Linked DNA regions of Homo sapiens: all the other regions are linked to region 2. The links come from fine-mapping of genetic effects on gene expression. A gene starts in region 2. Each other region holds a variant in brackets. All regions are shown on one strand. Distances are from middle to middle. Region 1 has its middle 94 kb from the start of TBCA. Region 2 holds the start of TBCA (tubulin folding cofactor A). Region 3 has its middle 22 kb from the start of TBCA.

Region 1 (2,764 bases), 94 kb before region 2:
GCCTTATGTTAAACTAAGACTTCTTAAGGAATTCATTGCTTGGGCTCCCTGCATTCCTGCAAGGCAGATCAGGAATGAGAAGTTAGATAACTGTTAAAAGCATGCTCTGAGTTAGTGGGTATCGAAGCTCCAGAGCACAAATTGATCCAAGGCAAAGACCACTAGATCATGCTACTTCCAGCCCGTGCAAAGTGGCTACCAAATGGCTATTTTCTAAACGCGTGGTGTTTCTGTAACCTTGGCCGAGGGCTTTCAACCCTATACAATCGTGCAAGTAGACAGAGGTAAGAGCACCTTTTCTCGTGTTAACGTTAATTTTATTTTCAGAAATGAGTCAGGCCTGCATCTGCCTGTTGAGAAAAGCTATTTTCCAAAGTAGTGTCTGCACTTGGCATGACCTTAGGTGGGCCATGGACTTGCTCTGTGTTCACTTTTGCAAGAAACTTTTTAGGAAAGATTGTAAAACACTTTGAAAGCTAGCAACATTTGTGTACCAAAAGTCTGTTTCTCCCAACTCAATTCTGGCTGTTCTCTTCACACAACTTAACAGAGTTAATTGATGCCTAACTCTTTCTTAGTTTTTCCCCATCTGAAAAAAAGTATTAAGTTCCTTATTTCCCAGGTGGTATTTTCTTAATATTTCTAAGTAACATAGTCACTGGACCACCTACATCAGCATTGCCTCTGCCTTATGTTAAAATGCCTCGGGAAATTCTGAGGTGAGGCGGGATTTTTTAAGATGAAAATTTTGCGGCACCACATCAAACTGAACCGGAATCCAAGAGGGACAAGTCAAGGACTCTGCATTTTAAAAATCATTTGTTGAGGTTCACATAATATAAAACTAAGCATTTTTAAACGCTTTAGTACATTTACCACGCTGGGCAACCACCACTTCTATCTACTTTCAAAACATTTGTATCACTTGAGAGGCAAACTTGTCCAACCAGCGGCCTGTGTGTGGCCTGCACATGACCCAGGACAGCTTTGAATGCGGCCCAACACAAATTTTTAAACTTTCTTACAACATTGTAAATTTTTATGACTTTTGTTTGCTTGTTTTTTAGCTCATCAGCTATCATTAGTGTTAGTCTATTTTATGTGTGGCCCAAGACAATTCTTCTTCTTCCAGTGTGGCCCAGGGAACTAAAAAAACTGGACACCTCTGCTTTAGAGTAAAACCCCTTAGTCATTAAAAAGAATCTGCATTTTTAACAAGCTCCTCATGTTGTCACTGCACACCCTAGGGTTTGAGAACCACTGTAGTTAATTTAAAGGTGGGAGGCCGGGCGCGGTGGCTCACGCCTGTAGTCCCAGCACTTTGGGAGGCCGAGGCGGGCAGATCATGAGGTCAGGAGATCGAGACCATCCTGGCTAACACGGTGAAACCCGGTCTCTACTAAAAATACAAAAAATTAGCCGGGCGTGGTGGCGGGCGCCTGTAGTCCCAGCTACTTGGGAGGCTGAGGCAGGAGAATGGCGTGAACCCGGGAGGCAGAGCTTGCAGTGAGCCGAGATCGTGCCGCTGCACTCCAGCCTGGG[T/C]GACAGAGCGAGATTCCGCCTCAAAAAAAAAAAAAAAAAAAAAGAATTAGGTGGGAGGTACATAAATATGACATTGAACCACATAGGTGAGCAAGTTTATGATCCTGGATGTTAGGATTTCAACTGCATTCTGTTAATAATGTCTTCTATAATGCTATGGGGTTTGTATCACATTTCACATCATTAAAAGACTGGATCCTTACAGCATACTTGAGAAGTAAGCATTAGCACATCCATTTTACAGATTTGAAAAGCAAAGTTCATCATGGCTTCTTAGTGGAACTTGACCTAGCTACAAAGAGGCGGAGTACGATCTGGAATCTAGGCCTCTGGCTTTGGGATCTTGGCCTCCCTCTTGTGAGCACCTCCACTGAGAAGCCCCTGACCCTGCTAGGAAGGCTGCAGAATGAAGGGACTCAGCCTGAGAGAGGCCTCTACACCTCAGGGGCTACTTTCATTTTAAAAGTTCTTTTTAATGCCTCTGCTTTTCAGAGTCTCATTTGGCCCCTCAAAAAGGTTCGAGATATATGGCAACCCATGAAAGGGAAACAGAAAAGTTATAACAGATGAGCAAAACAGTTTGAAATATTGATGTATTTAAAAGAGGTCTCTCTTGGTGCCATTGGAGAAGCGTTGCCATTTCTTACTTAATGGATTAACTGCTAGGCTGACATACAGTGTCTTTTTAAACAAAGCTCCCTGCTAATCCAGACCAGTCTCTTATGTACTATTTGTTCACCCAATCTAACATGCATCAGAGCCTGAACGTGTGTTGTCTGTGGATAACTAAGGCTGGGATCACGCAAAATGGTTGATCACAGATCTGAACTGGCATTTGGTTTACCCTGACAATAACCTGAAAATATCTCTATAGATACACAGATAAACGTGGCAGACAGTTACTTTGCTTATCCTGTTTTGCATTGACTGGAACTTAGAGATGCAGGTTTCAATTGGATAAAAACACGGCAGCTAAAATATTTTGCCTTGCAATAGAGAAAGGAAACTGCATATGGCTGAAACCCTCCCCGACCGCCTGCTCTTCCCCCAGTCAAGGTGTCTGTCACCAAAAAAGGGCTATATTTGTAAATGTTAACGAAAGCTAAACACAGGGTTTTGCTATGGTAAGAAAATGCCACACTCCCCTTCTCCATAAATTGGGTTTCTAGGAAGCAATCCCTCCCCCAAGAAACGGCTTGTGGGGAGGGCAAAGCAACCAGCT
Region 2 (2,764 bases):
TTTGATCCTGGATTTAAAGTAACGGCCTTGGGCTGGCGGGATAGAAGGGGATTCCAGGACCAGTCATGAAAGTGAGAATGAGTAAGTCAGGCTAGGGAAGGAAAAAGACAGTCATATGGGTGTCTTTGAAGGATGGTACCAAGAAATTTTAAAAAGGGGGTGGGCTCGGTGGCTCATGACTGTAATCCCAGCACTTTTGGAGGGTGAGGTGGGCCTCACCTGAGGTCAGGAGTTCTAGCCAGCCTGGCCAACGTGGTGAAACCCCGTTTCTACTAAAAATACAAAAAAAAAAAAAAAAAAAAATTAGCCAGGCATAGTGGAACGCGCCTATAATTCCAGCTACTCTAGGGGCTGAGGCAGGAGAATCACTTGAACCCAGGAGGCGGAGGTTGCAGTGAGCCGAGATCAAGCCACTGCACGACAGAGTGAGAATCTGTCTCAAAAAAAAAAAAAAGAAAAAGAAAAAGAAAAGCAATTTTAAAAAGGGCGATTCTGCCCTGTATTCCTCAGGAGATTCTCTTAGGAAGGGACTGCTAGAGCTCACTGTAGATGTGCCTCATTTTATGCAACAAATATATTTTTGAACATATAAAATAGTCAAATGTTGTTCAGCATCTACCATGCGTCAGACAATGAGCTAGGTGTTTTAACCCTTATACCTAATCTGTAAAATGGACATTATTATTTCCATTTTGCAGACTGATCAGCTGCAAGGCTAAACAGCATACGTATCAGTGTTGTCTAGCTAATAGTCTAGCTATTAAAGGGTGGAACCTCGATTGTAAGCCGGTTTGTCTGATTAGGAAGCCCAAGGTTTTGTGTGCGACACACATTCTTGTAAGTTAAATATTTAGGATACACTATAAGTGATCATCTGAAGAAGTTCTGTTAGTCATTTCCTTTGAAAGGCACGTTATCTACAAACCTTCTTGCAGGGATTTGAGGTAAAGGGCAAGGATTTTCTTGACTGCGTGCATGATGGCAGTTTGTTTCACTACACATGCATCACTCTGCCTCATCTGACACCAGATAACGACATCGAAAATACCCTTAATACATTTTTTAGGTCACTCCGTCCATTAAGCAGATAATCCCGCAAAGCAACGTCCCAGAGAGACGTTAGTTTCCCCAAAGGCCCAGGCTGTGGAGACCGGGATAGTGTAACTTGCGCCTGAAGTAAAAAGAGGGGCAGTCCGAGAGAGAGGAGGAGGGCACGTTTCACTACGGGTAAAGGGGCGCACGAGGGGTAAAGGGACTGGCGGGAGCAGGGTACCGCCCTCTAGTAAACCCGCCCCGCGGGGCGTGGCGGGGACGACGGGCCGCGCAGCCTGCGCATGCGCGCCGGCGACCACGCCTAAATAGCCGCAGCCTCTGCGCGTCGCCCTCCACGGTTACCCCGGCTCTCCGCCCCTCCTTCTCGCGGCGCTCGAGGGACCATGGCCGATCCTCGCGTGAGACAGATCAAGATCAAGACCGGCGTGGTGAAGCGGTAAGGAGCCGGGAGCGGCGCCCTGCACCTCCTCTTCGTCACCTCATGGCGGCCCGCGAGGCTGAGCGGAGCGCAGGCCCGAGGAGGCCCGAGGCGGGCTCCGAACTCCAGGCCGCACCCGGGGCTCCGCAGTTGGCTGGGACTGGCAGGGACCCAGCGGGGCGCGCTGACGCCCGAGCCCGCCAGCCTCGCACGCCGCTTCCCGTCCCTCTCCGCTCACTGGCCGCTCTGATTTGCCGGAAGAGTCGGCGGTGGCCCGGTTTCTCGGCGCCCGCGGTGGGAAGGTGGTGGGCCGCGGCCTGCGAGGGCGGGCCGGGCCCTGATCCCGTGCCTCCTGTGTGCGCGCGCCGGCCTCTCCTTGCTGAACTTGGCCCGGGGAAGCGGGATCCCAGCTGTGCTCTCAAATGGGCTTGAAAGCAGGCTCTGAAGTTTAGGGGGATGCGGAGGATCTGGGCCTCGTCAAAAAAGACCGTAGTGGAGCCGTGTGACCTAACATGGCTGGCGTGACTGGCAGGCTTTGAGAACTGGGCCTGAACTTCTAGCACACTCAGCAAACTTATGTGGCCTCACTTTCTCCAGTCAGATTCCCCGAAGCTCGCCCCAGAGGCTGTGAGATGCTGTTTAAATAACTTGTGAACCAGAAGTATCTGAGACAGGTCTTAATTTGGAATGTTTATTTTGCCAAGGACGTGCCCATGACACAGCCTCAGGAGGTCCTGATGACATGTGCCCAAGGCGGTTGGGGCACAGCTTGGTGTAATACGTTTTAGGGAGACCTCAGATATTAGTCAATGGGTAAGGTGTACCTTGGTTCCCTCCAGAAAGGCAGGACAACTAGAAGGTTGGGGGGCATCCAGGTCATAGATAAGAGACAAATGGTTGCATTCTTTTGAGTCTTTGATCAGCTTTTCACTTAATACACAATTTACATGTGAGAGAGGGATAGAAGAATAGTCACTTATGCCTTAGTCGGCTAAATGAATCTGCGATTTTACATACACAGTAGGGCAGAGGAAGCAGTCAGTTACGCATTTGTCTCAGGTGGGTAGAGGGGTGACTTTGAGTTCTGTTCTTTGTCCCATACCTGTGAAGATAAGCTATCAATTTACATTGCCAGGGTGAAATACAACAGAACTGTTTTAGAGTGAAGGTCTTGAGGCCCACAAGGAATTTCCTTGGGGGCAAATTGTCAGGGAGGTATGTAGCTTTTTTTTTTTTTTTTTTAATCTTTGTAGCTATCTTATTCAGGAATAAAATGAGAGGCAGGTTTGCTCG
Region 3 (2,764 bases), 22 kb before region 2:
GGACTACTGCTTTTAATCCATATAAAGCCCCATCAAATAGGGATTATTGTCCCCAATCTAAAGAAGAGAAAACAGAAAGATTCAATAACTTGTCCAAGACTGTATGTCTTGGACACATAAAACTGTAACTAACCACATATTAACTACATGAAAAGATATGCTGACAGAAGGCTGGTCTCAGCCAGGAGCCAAGAAAAGAGGAGAGAAAGATTGAGACTTGGGGGGACTCTGCTGGCTCTATACACATGGTGAGGAGGCTTACTAGCTGATGTGAGCATCTGGTCAGTTTGCCTAGTACATCTCTCTAATGGAGTCAGATATGTCAGACAATTGTGCTATGAAGCTCAGACAACCAACTCTCCCACTCTCACTTTATGACCATCAGCCACCTTCTGACTATCACATTTTCCTACAAATGAAGGAATGCATACACCAGTTTAAACATTTATGTAGTAGTATTTCTCACTATAAATGAACACTTTGGCATTTGGGATTGTTCAATGGTCCCATGTAAGTTGGATCATGTGAGTCCATCCATCTGAGCTTTGTCAGTTCTTGATGTTCTGACAAACTTGAGTTTCTGCGCCTAGAGAGCTGAGGACCAAATCCTGGACTAAGGGGGCTCTTTCAAGGTAATGCCCTAGCAGCCCTACATGAGGCAGCCAAATCGCCTATCTGCTATCTTCATCTTGCTTAATTTAAATGCAATGATAATAAGTTGTTGGGATGTTCTGTCAGTTATTAAGTTTTCATCTCTCACATCCACACTTATCCTTCAATAGTCTGCAATGTGATGCTAGGTTTAGAATTCTAAAATACACATTTTTACTTTGTCAAGAGGCTGCAATGCTAGAGGAACAAAAACAGACTCCTTCCTGTGGGCTTCCTGAATGTTTCCTGTTCCTGTGGGCATCACACTAGCATCAGTTCTTTATTCCAACAGCTTCAGTTCCTTTCTGTGGCAGCAGCTTAATTCTGTTTGGGGTTTTTCCTCTATATTGCAGGATCAAATTCATTGTACCCTCTCAGAGGAACCAGCATAAGCTGCCCGATGTCCTCACTTCAGAATTCTGCTTCCTCCT[C/T]TGAGTTCCTAAATGCAAATAATTTTAACTTCTTTCCTTTGTTCCCCAATTCTAGGAGTAGTAAATGCTTCTTGCAGTTGCTACCTTTGTGACATCTTTTTTTTTCCCTTTCATTTACTTTGTTAACAACTTTATACCTAGATAAGGATTATATTCTCTCTGTTCAAATAACTGATGTGGTTTCCGTCTTGAATGATACAGATGCATATATGAGCTGCAATTTTTCTGCTTTCTTTCATTCACATTGGCAAAAAGATATTTATTCATGTCTAAGGATCTGTTTATGATTCACAAAAACAGAAACAATATGAATTCACATCAAACAATTTGTCAAAATATAAGAAAACTGAAAGAAATAACAACAGAGCAGCACATAGTGTAGATATTTGAGGTTTTTTTCCCATTCTCCATAACTGAGCAGTTTGCTCAAAGTGCTCCTATATCTTTTTCTCAGTTCTGGAAGCCAATAAATCCCAAAATAACACCATTACAGTAAAACAAGCTGCATAGCCCAAAGATGGATTTACTGGAATGATGTCAAAGGATTGTTTCCATGGTATTGATTGCTTACTTTAGAACTTTCCTAGACCTGAGATGTCGAAAGGTTATTATTTTGGCTTGAGGAGAGTCTTGAAAGGATATTCTAGGGGAAAAGAGCATGGCCTGACAGCTGCTTACTTCTGGGAGGATTCTGGGGCTGCCTTCAGGACAAAGGAGGGGCAACTTGAGATATATTTTGAGCAGCTAGAAGCCAAAGGTGTCTCCAAGAGAAGTAACAATTTAGCTGCTATGTCAAATAAATAAGCTAGTCCTGGGGTTTAAATCAAAATTTGAATTGAAAAATTGTGTAATTATTCAAGGTTAGATTGTTGTATATTGCTAAGTGTTGTACATGCTTTGGGTTTATTTAGGATGTCCCAGTTCAGAAAGGATGTCCCAGTTTACCCTATTACCTGATCATCTGCTTATGGCACAAATTTCTTTCATTTTCTCTGAAATCTGGAACCTCCCTCCATCATCACAGGTATAGGTTTTGTAGATGTAGCTCAGGACAGAGTTTATGGAAATAATTGTCTGTTTTTGTGCTTGCGAGTTAAGCCAAGCATCACTTATTTCAGGGAAATTGCTCCTTTCACCTTCTTCTTCTAGAGGGTGTTTCAACATTAATAATACAGAGAAGTAACAAGATAATCTTAAGCCTTTCTGAGTACTATGATTACAAGATATGCAATCCACTCACCACCCACACACTCCTCTTTCCCAAGCAGTGCACTGAAGCTATTTGAAGCAAATGACATTGTGTATCCAAAACATTTAATTCCTGGTTCCTTGCTACAGTCTTAACATTACCACTAATAAAACCTCTGTTCTAATCTTTGTATTGCCTCATTCTCACAGCCCTCTTAATTACCTGAGATTTTTTGTACTGTAAATTAACTCCCAAGTCACCAGATGCCTAGACATCATTTTCTACAAACGACAGTATACTTCAAATGACAACTGTAACATTAATGTGGGAGGATAAAAAGACTTATGTGGTTTTAACGAATTTGCATTTTATTTAAAGTGGTAAATAGTAACTCTGAGTAGACTGTCAATGGTTAGGTAAGTGTATTACAATCCCTAGAGCAAACACACACACATACAAAGAGACAATAGATAGAAGTGACAATAGATAAATT

The links. PIP is the estimated chance that this variant, and not a neighbour inherited with it, causes the effect. A credible set is the group of variants that fine-mapping cannot tell apart.
Region 1: its variant is the best candidate, but not a certain one, in a credible set for the expression of TBCA in whole blood (INTERVAL, PIP 0.54).
Region 3: its variant is the best candidate, but not a certain one, in a credible set for the expression of TBCA in blood mononuclear cells (TOPMed, PIP 0.66).

What each region holds. Positions count from the first base shown.
Region 1 is chr5:77,869,398-77,872,161 of GRCh38, reverse strand. No RefSeq gene overlaps it. Among named protein-coding and RNA genes, the nearest start is that of TBCA, 94 kb to the right of the region's middle. RefSeq lists an enhancer at 1-279. The variant T/C (reference allele first, on the strand shown) is at 1,543.
Region 2 is chr5:77,774,930-77,777,693 of GRCh38, reverse strand. It overlaps TBCA (tubulin folding cofactor A), which reads left to right and starts at 1,355. Exons shown (of 4, transcript NM_004607.3): 1 at 1,355-1,489. The coding sequence starts at 1,437. RefSeq lists silencers at 1,209-1,468, 1,589-1,758.
Region 3 is chr5:77,796,898-77,799,661 of GRCh38, reverse strand. No RefSeq gene overlaps it. Among named protein-coding and RNA genes, the nearest start is that of TBCA, 22 kb to the right of the region's middle. The variant C/T (reference allele first, on the strand shown) is at 1,083.